Regions from separate parts of the Homo sapiens genome. Here region 1 is linked to region 2. Evidence: fine-mapped QTL for protein levels in blood plasma. A gene starts in region 2. The other region holds a variant in brackets. All regions are shown on one strand. Distances are from middle to middle. Region 1 overlaps FLT4 (fms related receptor tyrosine kinase 4). Region 2 holds the start of SCGB3A1 (secretoglobin family 3A member 1).

Region 1 (2,976 bases), 27 kb after region 2:
CTCGGATGAGACTGGCTTCCAGCCTCAGTCTCCCTTCCCGAGTTGCCGTCCCACCGGCCCACCCCGAGCTGCTGCTCCTCACCAGCTAGGCTGCCCCTTCCGCCCGCTGACCCCACACCTTTCAGCATTTTCACGGCCACGGTGTCACAGCTGCTGCCCTTGTGGATGCCGAAAGCGGAGGCTTCCACCACCTTCCCGAAGGCGCCGTAGCCGAGCACTCTCCCTGTCGGGGCAGGGGGCCAGTTGCAGGTGAGCTGTACGGGGTGAGCGTGGAGACAGGTGGGCGGCGGGGGAGCCCCGTGCAGAGGTCCAGGAGGACAGGCCTGGCAGCAGGAGGAGCGTGGGGAGCCACAGCGGGAAGACAAGGAGAGGTGGACAGGAGGCCGCGCATCCTCCCGGGTAGGTGTGACAGATACACCCTGCTCAGGGTGGCAGCAGGTGACCTCAGGGAGCCTGGGAACTGGGGACCCTGGCTGAGGTTCTAGGTACCCACGCCCACAGGGACAGGTCAGGCCAGGCGGAACTTCCTGGTGCAAGTTTTGAAAATGGAGGGATTCAGGCACTCCGGCCTGCAGCAGGTGGGTCGGGCAGGAGGTGTGGGTTGGGCAGGCTGGTGCTGGCCTCACCCAGGTGCAGCCGCTCTCGGGGGAATTCCCACTGGCTGGCATCGTAGGACAGGTATTCGCATTGCTCCTCCAGAGGCACCTCCCCGGGGTCCATGATGATGGACAGGTAGCCCGTCTTGATGTCTGCGTGGGCCGGCTGCGGGGAGGGGACAGGGAGGAGTGGGGCAGCTCACTGATTTGGCCATACCACTGTGGCTTGGGCAGAACTTTGCCCAGGACAGATGGCACTTCCTGCGGGG[T/C]TCTCAGTCAAGGAGGGGACAGAAAAAAAGACAGACAACCTCTGCGGGGTTGGAGCCCAGCGTGAAGGGCAGGGAGGCTTCCCAGGAAACAAGGCTGCCAGGTGAACTAGGGCGGGCACCTTATTCTTTATCTTAGGGGCGGCCAGGGTGGGGAAGGCCTGAGAGAGACTCCATCAGGAGCGGGGAGGGACACTCACCCTCCTCATGTTACAGAAGATGAGGAGGAGGAGGACCCAGAAGAAGACAGCGATGACGCCGGTACCGACAAGGATCACGATCTCCATGCTGCCCTTATCCTCGGAGCCTGCGTGGGCAGAAAGGGGCCGGCGTGTGTGTGTGTGTGTGTAAGAGCGTGCACCTGCAGGCAGCACCCCTTCTGGTGGCCACGACTTGCCCAAGGTGGCCACAAGAAAGCGTTAACTGGGGACGGGAAGGGAGTTGAGGGGTGCAGCCTGAGGCCAGACCTTCCACGGCCACGCTGGCGGAGGAGTTGACGCAGCCCTTGGCGTTGCACACGCTGCACAGATAGCGTCCCGCATCCTCCTCGCGCACGCGCTGGATGCTCAGCTTCTGGTTGGAGTCCGCCAAGTCGACTCCTGCAGGGGGTGGGGTGGAGGTGCGGGTCCACCTGGGTTTGGGATCGTCGGCCTCGCGGGCCTCCGGACCTGCCCTTCGCCAGGGCCACCCTCCCTACCAGACTTTTCCTCCAGCAGCCTCTCGTCTTTGTACCACACGATGCTGGGCGCGTGCGCTCCGGCCACCAAGCACTGCATCTCCAGCGAGTCGCTCACGTTCACCAGGAGGTCGGTCAAGTTCTGCGTGAGCCGAGGGGCTTCCAGGGCTGGGGGCAGGGGTCGAGAGGGAGCTAAGTGGAGCTGCACTTAGCAGGAGGACCCTCTTTGGGCTGGGAGCAGAGGTAGAAAAGGATCCCTGGAAGCTGGACTTAGGGGTTGTGCGCCGGGCAGGAGCGCGGCGCGCCTCCGCAGGGGGCGGCGGATAGTCAGGAGGGGTAGCTCCTGCAGGCCAGGGCTGTGAATAGACCTCCCAGGGGCGAGCCACGCCGGGGCAAAGGCAGAGGCAGCTACTGCTAGAAGAGAGCGCGTCCCCGCCCTCCCCGCGGCCAGCCTCACCCTGCACCGACAGGTACTTCTTGTGGCAGTGCTTGTCATGGCTGCGCCGGTCTTGCACTTCGCACACATAGTGGCCCTCGTGCTCGGGCGCGACGCGGGGGATACTCAGGCTGAGCGTGGCGTGGCGCGCCCCAGGTGCCACCTCCTCCAGGCTGGCGGCCAGAGGGGTGGCGAACAGATGCACGTTCTTGCAGTCGAGCAGAAGCGGGTTCCCGTGCGCATCGTGCAGCGTGGACAGGTTGAGGCGGTACCAGCGCAGATGCTCGTACTTGTAGCTGTCGGCTTGGCAGCTCAGGAGCACCGGCTGGCCCTCTAGTAGCTCCTCGGATGGCTTGGATTCGATGGTGAAGCCGTCGGGGATGGCTGTGGAGGGAGGAAGAAGCCCTGTGGCACTGCCCTGGGAGTTTGCTCCCCCATCCACCTGCCGCCCCGGGGTCTCCTCCTGCCTCCCTCCCTCCCTCTCTCCTGGAGGGGCCCCAGCTGGACTGCTTGCCCCCCGCCCCACCAAAAGCCCAGGTCATCAGGAGTTCCTTGTCACCCTCAGTGGGACTTGAGTCCTCATTCTCTCTTGAAGCTTGCCATGCCCCACCCCATGCTCAGCCTGAAATAACGTGTTCCCTGGCTTTTCCCAGTGCCGTGCGCCCACTTCCTCTTGTCTCTCTGGTCACTTCTGGTCAGGCTCCTGTGGCCCCCCAGCCCCCGGGTGTTCTTTTGGGCTCCATCTCTCTGCTGGTGCCCTGATCTACATCTCTCTGCTGGTGCCCTGATCTACATTCTGGGACCCAGTGACGTCTGCTCCTGGGCTCCGCTCTCCTGAGGTCACTACCACATTTGAAAATCTGAGTAAACCACAGAGCTTCTCCCCAGAGCAAAATTCACACGAGTCACAAGGTCTCAGGGCTTGGGAAGGGGAGGGTGGGAGTGGGTATAGCTAGGAGGAGCTGCAGTGAGCCAAGGGCATCCTTGAGGGAGGAGCCCCAG
Region 2 (8,434 bases):
TGCCTTGGCTTCTCAAAGTGCTAGGGTTACAGGTGTGCGCCACCGTGCCCAATCAAAAAATTTTTAAAATCTCGTGTGGATATTCATGATGGGGGGAAGACCTGCTCAAGCCACCTGAGGCAGAGTTATTCATCCCAGCAAGGAAGTCAACTGGGAGGCTTCCCCTGAAAGGGACACCGATGTCTGGGTTCCCTGGGCACCTTCCCACCAACACTAGATCAGTTGACAAAAGGTGGTCTCTCCGCTAGAGTAGAAGGAATCAAAGTCACTAGGTTATTTGGACAAAACCAGCAGAAACTGCAGGGAAAACAAGCCCAACAGCGGATTTCCTGAAGCCCTCATTCCTCCCCCATTCCGAGGAAGAAATCTACAAGTATAGAGGGAAAAAATAAAAACTTTCAAATTTTAGCAACAAATGGCTTTGGTGCGTTTGCATTCTCGCCAGTCTTCAAGGAGTAGATAATTTTTATGCTTCATAAACAGTTACAGAGCACAACAGGAAGAAAGACCTGCCAGTTTTGTTTCCAAATCCGGTTTACCTCTGATACTGGCCCCATCTCTGTCACCTTGCACTGCTGGCTCTATGCCACCTGCAGACTCTCGCGGCCTCTCTCTCCCTCTCTCACGCAGCACCCCTCACAAAATCTGGGACTTGGCACTCTCGGTCCCCCACAGGGATCAGCATTTGGATGAGAAAATACCAGGCTCGAGCTGCTCTTAACCACGTTTATTGAGAGGGGCCGGGGGAAGGGGATGGACGGTCCTCCCCGCGGCGGGGTTTTCAGCCCTCGCGGGTGGGCAGCGTCTTGTCCTCAGGTGTAGATGCTCCAGTCTCGGCTCAGCCAAACACTGTCAGGGCCCCCTGGAAAGCAGAAGCCGAGCTTGAGTGCCCCCAGCCCTGCCACCAAGAACTCAGGCGGGGGCGCGGCAGCGGCCGGCTCTGTGGGGAGCGGGAGCGGGGCGGTTCCGCTGGCGTCTCCGGGGGACGCGCACCCGCGCGGGGCCATCTCCGCCTTCCCCGCCCCTGCAGCTCGGATGCGCCCCACCCAGTTCCCACCCGGAGACCCGGGCTTCTCCCAGGGACAGGGCTTGGAGGGGCAGGACGGGAAACAGCCCTGACGTAGGGCCGGGACACCTCTGGTGCAGTTTTGAGGCTGGCCGGGAAGGGATGCCCGCGCAGGAAGGGCACCCGGGGTGCCCACTTTACCAGCAGGGCCTTCAGGGCCTTCACGGCCCCCACGGCCTGGGGACCCAGCTCAGCCACACACTTCTGGGAGCCCTCTATGAGGTGGTTCACGGGGATGCCCAGGCTGCTCAGCAGGAGCTTCAGCGGGTTGAGGGTGCCGAGGGGGTTGGCCAGGGTCCCGGCCCCGGCCTCCGCCGCCGACTCCAGCGCAGCGACAGGCTGGGCCACAGGCTTGGCCGAGCCCACTAAGAAAGCAGCAGCTGCAAGCGAACAGGGAGGGGTCACCGCCTGCGCGCCGGGGTCCCCAGAAGGCAGGTCCAGGACGCGCCCCCGCGGGAGGCGCCCAGGAACCGTCGCGCCCTGCCCGGCTCCCCGACCGCCCCTCCCTCCTGCGCCGAGGCCTGCCAGGTGCGAGCCCCCGGGACACAGGCGGGTCTGGGGAGGCGGCCCCGCCAGGAGACGCTGCAGGGTCACCGGAGTGGCCTGAGGGTGGCGGAAGGACCGGTGAACTCTGTGCAGGGTCCGGGACAGGCCCCCAAGGGAGGGGACACTCGCGCTGCGCCTTGCAGGATGAGGAGCCGGTCTCCAGACGGGGGGCAGACGGGTGTCCCCAGGCCAGGGGCGGCCTCCATCCCGGCACGAGGCTGGAGACAGCCCTGAGAGGGGGAGGCCGCGGGCTGCAGGCGCGGGGCCCCGGGGTGGCGGAGCCCTCTGGGCGCCGGGCGAGGCTGGAAGGACCTGGGATCCACGATCGGCGCAGGCAGCGGCGGGGGCGCAGCGGGCGCCGAGGCCTCAGGCCCCACCGTGCGCGCCAGGAGCCCGGGGCGCTCACCGGAGCTGCAGGACAGGGCCACGCAGAGCCCCAGGAGGGCGGCGAGCTTCATGGCGCGGGGGCTCGGGGCGCGCGGGGAACCTGCGGCTGCCCGGGCAAGGCCACGAGGCTTCTTATACCCGGTCCTCGCCCCTCCAGCGCCGGCCTCGCCCGCGCTCCTGAGAAAGCCCTGCCCGCTCCGCTCACGGCCGTGCCCTGGCCAACTTCCTGCTGCGGCCGGCGGGCCCTGGGAAGCCCGTGCCCCCTTCCCTGCCCGGGCCTCGAGGACTTCCTCTTGGCAGGCGCTGGGGCCCTCTGAGAGCAGGCAGGCCCGGCCTTTGTCTCCGCGAGGCCCACCCCGGCCCGCACCTTCGCTTTGCGGTCTGACCCCACGCGCCCCCCTGCAGGGCTGGGCCCGGGTGAGGGGAGCTTCCCTCGCGCCAGGGCAGGGGCGGGGGCGGCGCAGTTCCTGGCTCCCTGGTCCCTGCCTCTGATCCCAGACCGTGGCAACGTCGGGCACTGGGGGTCCTCGTGGGCGCCTTCTGCGCCTGGGGAGGTGGAGGCGCCAGGGACGATCAGGCCTCACTCCCGGCCGCCTCCCCGGCCGGGCCACAGGCAGCCACAGTGCAAACAGAAGTGGGGCGTTTTTCTGTCTTCGAAACTAGCCTCGACGCCAGTGGATGGGCCTGGTTTGTTCCTGAGTTTCTCTAAATGTCCTCACTCGTCTGTCACCTGCAGAAGTATGACAGATGGAGAGCAAAGCACATTTTGAAAACTTTTGCAAATGATACATAAACTAATTTGCTTTTAGTCCTTCTTCTTTCCTCTATTTTTTGACCCCAGGCATTGAGCACTGAGTGACTCACGTTTTGCTGCGTGGCTGCTCTCAGCTAGGTTGGTGCAAAGTCTCTCTTTTCTTTTGTAAAGTGTAGCTGGCACGCGTGGGAAACAGGCTCCCGGGTGGGAGGACCTGACTCTTCAGGCAGTGTCCTGGAATTCCTTCCCTATGGCTGACAGCACGTCTTAGCCCTCAGCCACCCCGAGCTACTGCGGCCTCCTCCGCACCTGCAGACACTTGTGCCTTTGCCAACTGTTGTGGCCAGGCACACGCATTCACACTGTTTCTGTTCACTTACACTTTTCCTTGACTATTTTGTTTGGGGGATTTTTGCATTATAAATCTGGAGTTTGGTTGTGTTTTGTTGGTCATCATGGAAGTAATTTTAATGGGAAATACGTTTTCTTTTTTAAAAACAGTTTGAAGTTAATTACTTTTTTGGTGGTGGTAAAGACACTGTCTTGCCGTGTTGCCCAGGCTGGTCTCGAACTCCTGAGCTCAAGCAATCCTCCCACCTCAGACTCCCAAGTAGCTGGGACTAGAGGTGTGAGCCACCACACTCAGCGGATTTTGATTTTGTTTTTTGTTTGTTTGTTTTTTGAGACAGTCTCACTCTGTCGCCCAGGCTGGAGTGTAGTGAGGTGATCTTGGTTCACTGCAGCCTCCACCTCCCAGGCTCAAGCAATTCTCCCACCTCAGCCTCCCAAGCAGGTGGGGCTATAGGTGTGCACCACTATGTCCAGCTAATTTTGTTTATTTTTTGTAGAGACAAAGTCTCACTGTGTTGCCCAGACTGGTCTTGAACTCTTAGCCTCAAGTGATACTCTTGCCTCAGCCTCCCAAAGTGCTGGGATTACAGGTGTGAGCCACCACGCCTGGCTTGATTTATTTTTATTTTTTCTAGAGATGGGGTCTCGCTACATTGACCAAGCTGGTCTCAAAATCCTGGCCTGAAGCAATCCTCCCGCCTCAGACTCCCAAGGTGCTGTGATGACACGTGTGAGCCACCCCGCACAGCCCAGCTTCACCATCTTAAGGGCACACTCCATTAGCATTAAGTATATTCTAATGTTGTGCAAACATCACCACAATCCATTTCCAGAACTCTTTTCCTCTTATAAAACTGAAACTCTGAGCCTATTAAACAACTCCCCACTCCCCTCCCCAAGCCCTTGGCACCACCATTCCACTTTCTGTCTCTGAATCTGGCCACTCCCGGCACCTCATATGAGTGGAATCGGGCAGTGTTTGTCTTTTGTGTCTGGCGTATTTCACTTAGCATGATATCCTCCAGGTTCATTCATGACCTTCAGAGTTTCCTTCCTTCTTAGGGTAGGATACTGCTCCATTGCATGGCTGTGCCACGTTTTCTTCACCCATTCACTTCACCCGTGGGTGGACATGTGGGCGCTTGCATGTTTTCACTGCTGTGAGTAATGCGGCCGTGAACACGGCTGTGCAAATGCCTCTTTGGGACCCTGCTGTTGGCTGTTTTGGGTGGCTGCTCAGAGGTAGAATGGCTGGAGCCTGTGGAACTTGCCTGTGTCATTTGTGAGGATCTGCCATCTCTCCCATAGCAGCGGCACCACGCTGCCTTCCCAGCAACAATGCACAAGGATCCCAGTGTGTCCACAACCTCATGATGCTTGTTCTTCTCCTGAGCAGGATCTGGCAGCCTTGGCCCAAGCAATCCCAGTGGGCGCATCTTGGGAGCTGACTTTGGGGCCACCTTTCCCCATGCTGCCTGGGGACCAGAGAACACTGACCGCGGGAAAGACCGATGCTGCCGAGGCCAGGAGGAGGGGGAGGCCGTCATCTGTGGGTCCCCAGCAGCGCTTGGGGTCCTGGCCACTCCAGCGGCCCCTTGCACCTGCCTCCAGGGATCCTTTGTCTTCAAAATAACCTCCCTCCACCTTCCGGCTCATAGTGCCTTGGGTGGATCTGTTCCCATTTCCCACAAGCCTGCAGGGTGGTGACAGGCCCTCATTCCCATGTGCCCCAAGATTTCGGATTCCAAAAATACATCCCCTGGCTCCCCGGAGAAGTGTGTCACGGTGTCTCCGTTTCACCACTGACAGGGCCAAAGGATGTGCTCTCCTCTCCCGAGCTGCCATGGTCAAGGCAAGCCAGGACTCACCTCAGGCTGGCCCAGCCCCTCACCCCACACTGGCTCTGGGGGCCACGGCTGGCGAAGCCTCTGCGGTAGTTGGGGATCAGGCAGGCCGAGGGTCTGGCCTGTGCCGAGACCTGCACAGCTGGGTCAGCGGCTGCCTCTGTATTCATTTCCTGAGGCTGCTGTGACAAGTCACCACATACCTGGTGGCTGAAAACAACACATTTACTCCGCTCGCAGTTCTGGAGCCCAGAAGTGCAGTGTCACGGGGGTGAAGGCGAGGCGTCGGGGGCCGCTCCTCCTCCAGAGGCTGGGCCTTCCCAGGAGCTTATCCACTCCTGGCCTCTCCCTGCTTATGGGGGCTGCCAGGGCCCCTTGGCTGGTGACTGCATCACTCCAGTCTCTGCCTCCTGGTCACATGGCCTCCTCCTCTTCTGTGTGTGTGGGTGTGTGTGTGAGGGTGCGTGGGGTGTGTGTGTGAGGGTTTGTCGGTGTGTGGGTGTGTGTGGGTGTGTGGGTGTGTGTGGGGGTGTGTGTGGGTGTGTGAGGGTTCGTGTGTGGGTGTGTGGGAGTGAGAGGGTATGGGTGTGTGTGAGGGTGTGTGAGGGTATGTGTGGGTGTGTGAGTGTGTGTGGGGTGTGTGTGAGGGTGTGTATGTGTGGGTGTGTATGTGGGTGTGTGTGAGGGTTCATGTGTGGGTGTGTGTGGGTGTGGGGATGTGTGGGGGTGTGTGTGTGGAGGGGTGAGAGTGAATATGCATGCAAGTGTGTAAGATGGACAGTGAATGAGAATGTGCATGTGAAGGAGAGTGAGTGGGTGTGAGCTTGTGGGTGTGTTTGAGTGTGAATGTGTGTACAAGTGTGTGTGTGGATAAGCGTGAGTCAGTCTGTGTGGGAGGGAGAGTGTGGGAGGGAGTGTGTGGGAGGGAGTGTGTGGATATGCATGTGTTTGAATTGTGTGCAAGTGTGTGTGAATGTGTGTGTGAGTGTGGGTGTGTGTGAGTGTGAAAATTCTGCCGCCATCTTATGAGTGTGTGTGTTGTTGCATTTAGGGCTCACCTAGATAACCCAGGACAGTCCCCTCATCTCACAATGACGCCCCCAGTCGGGCTGCCGAGACCGTGCCTGCTGAGCCTAACATTCCAAGGTTCCAGGAGCTGGGGTGTGGACGGACCTGGGGCCTGCCATGCCCTCCAAGTGCTGCCCTGCCCCTTGAAGGCCAGGCCAGGTGAGGCTTCCAGGGTGGGTGTCAGAGTCCGCCCGGCATGGGACAGGGGCGGGTGGGCAGCGCCCTCTCGTCAGCCTGGGCCTTCCCTGCCACTCCTGCTTGCGGCCCTTGCTGGCTCAGGTCTGCCGAGACACTGAGAAAGTGCTTGGCGCTGTCTGCAGACGACACGGTCAGCTTGTTCTGGGCAGTGTTTGCAGGGCATCTTTTGGGCCAAAATAAACACGCACACCTTGCCCACTCCCACGGAATGCAGGAAGAGCTGGAAGGTAAACAAGCACTTTGCGGCTCTGGGGAAGGGGCCAGATATTGAATTTGGGGCCTATTGAAAGACCTCAGGGCCTCGGAGCAGGGTACTCAGCCCCTGGGTGCTCCTGCTGGGGAGCCTAGAGGCTCACGGTGCCTCCGCCCGGCCCACGCTTTGGCGGTGCTTCCGCAGACACCTGTGGAGGGCTGTTCAGGTGGCAGATGCCCACTCTGATGCCCCCACCATGTCCCCATTCTCTCTCTGATGTCCTCTCTCTCTGAGGCCCCTGCTCTCTGTGATGCCCCCTCTCTTTGATATCCCTCTTTCTCTGGTGCCCTCTCTTCCTAATGCCTTGAGTACATAAATTATTAAGCAAACTGGGTTGAACTCCGGATACCCATGCCTCTCTGATGTGGTCACCTGGGCAGGTGAGTGCAGCTCCCCGCCAGAGCAGGCATCTTGGTGACTGTTCATTGCCGGAGTTTTCTGGGGCCCCTCTCTGCCCACCTCTGCTCTCCTGGGATAGCAGCTGGCTGTCAGGTGGTGTCCTGGTGGCTGGGCCCTGGTTAGGTTAGCCCTCCATGCTAGAATGATCTGGGGCTTTGGGAGGGGTCTGTGGTGCTGTTCCAATAGAAGCTGCTCTTCTTTTTATGTCTAGAGCCAAAGGCCGCAGGCGCTGGACCCCGGCCCCGAGGCCCCCTTCCTCACTCCTTCTGAGCAAACTTTCCTACTCGAAGGTGGGGACCGGTGGGCAGCCCTGGTGGTGTCAGCCGGCACCCTGAGTTTCCCGATGGTCCTGGGACCCTTTTTCAAGGGACTTGTGGGGGCTCCTGGCCAGGGCCACCACAGCGGCCAGCAGCAGCGACCCTCCACACCGCCCTGAGTGGGCCCCACAAGGACAGGCACCTCGGCCAGTCCCAGCAGGCACTCTGGGCTTTCTCCTGCGCCAGTAGGAAGTGGTTTGGCTCGGCCCCGTGGGCCCTGGGGCGCTCAGCACCCCCTCCTCAGCCCCCGTCCTCCCTCCTCATGGCTCGGCCCCGTGGGCCCTGGGGCGCTCAGCACCCCCTCCTCAGCCCGCGTCCTCTTTCCTCATAGCTCAGCCCCGTGGGCCCTCGGGCACTGGGCAGTGTCGTGAGCATATCCGAGCGCCCTCTGTGGCACCGTCCCTGGGTCAATATTGATCTGGCTCTCAGCCACTTCCTTTTGCCCCTTCCCTGTCGGCACTCCCACCCACAGGGCCCTGCTGTGCGGAGGGGAGCAGGTGCTGTCGATGTGGTTCCTGCCTTGTGGGTTCAGGGCATTGGTGAAAGTGACAGAAAAGCTGACCCACGTGGCTTTAAGCAAAGACTGAAATTCCAGGAGTGGCTCCGCCTTCAGGGAAAGGTTGATCCAGGCTCAAAGGATGTCACCAGGACCTCATACCTCATTCTTCCCTGCCATCTCTCAGCTCCTTTTTTTTTTTTTGAGATGGAGTCTTGCTCTGTTGCCCAAGGTGGAGTGCAGTGGTGCAATCTCGGCTCACTGCAACCTCTGACCCCAAGTTCAAGCGATTCTCCTGCCTCAGCCTTCTGAGTAGCTGGGATTACAGGCGCCCGACACCATGCCCGCCTAATTTTTGTATTTTCAGTACAGCCAGGGTTTCATCGTGTTAGCCAGGATGGTCTCGATCTCCTGACCTCGTGATCTGCCTGCCTCGGCCTCCCAAAGTGCTGGGATTACAGGCGTGAGCCACCGCGCCCGGCCTCTCAGCTCCCATTTTTTAGAGTTGTCCTCCTTGGAGTGACAGGCTGGCAGCCAGCAGTGCCAAACCTCCGATACCAATTTGGGCCCAGGCACACAAGCGCTGGTGCTATCCCCAGGGCCCTCCCGTGAGGCTTCACCCCACTGCTCCAAGGACCGTGCTGGCCACAGCAGCAGCAGCAGAGGAAACATCGTGTCTCATTAGGTCCCACTTCCCTGCTTCAGTCTGTTCAGTGAGGAAGGAGGCTGAGGAAGGGGTGCTGGCAGGGATTCAG

Evidence for each region. PIP is the chance, under the fine-mapping model, that this variant and not a neighbour inherited with it causes the effect. The UK Biobank Pharma Proteomics Project read protein levels with antibody pairs (Olink). The fine-mapping took linkage between variants from a reference panel, not from the people measured, so its PIPs are less certain.
Region 1: its variant is fine-mapped to the plasma level of the SCGB3A1 protein (UK Biobank, PIP above 0.99).

The regions. Positions count from the first base shown.
Region 1 is chr5:180,619,547-180,622,522 of GRCh38, forward strand. It overlaps FLT4 (fms related receptor tyrosine kinase 4), which reads right to left. Exons shown (of 30, transcript NM_182925.5): 13 at 1,996-2,358; 14 at 1,560-1,706; 15 at 1,330-1,461; 16 at 1,063-1,169; 17 at 627-762; 18 at 119-223. Among named protein-coding and RNA genes, the nearest start is that of FLT4, 29 kb to the right of the region's middle. RefSeq lists an enhancer at 285-1,484. The variant T/C (reference allele first, on the strand shown) is at 866.
Region 2 is chr5:180,589,393-180,597,826 of GRCh38, forward strand. SCGB3A1 (secretoglobin family 3A member 1) reads right to left here and starts at 2,107. Exons shown (of 3, transcript NM_052863.3): 1 at 2,019-2,107; 2 at 1,208-1,446; 3 at 713-862. The coding sequence starts at 2,070. The coding sequence ends at 839. It overlaps LOC124901154 (a long non-coding RNA gene), which reads left to right and starts at 3,778. Exons shown (of 2, transcript XR_007059088.1): 1 at 3,778-3,817; 2 at 4,501-4,876. RefSeq lists enhancers at 299-968, 969-1,638, 1,639-2,308 and a silencer at 7,321-7,492.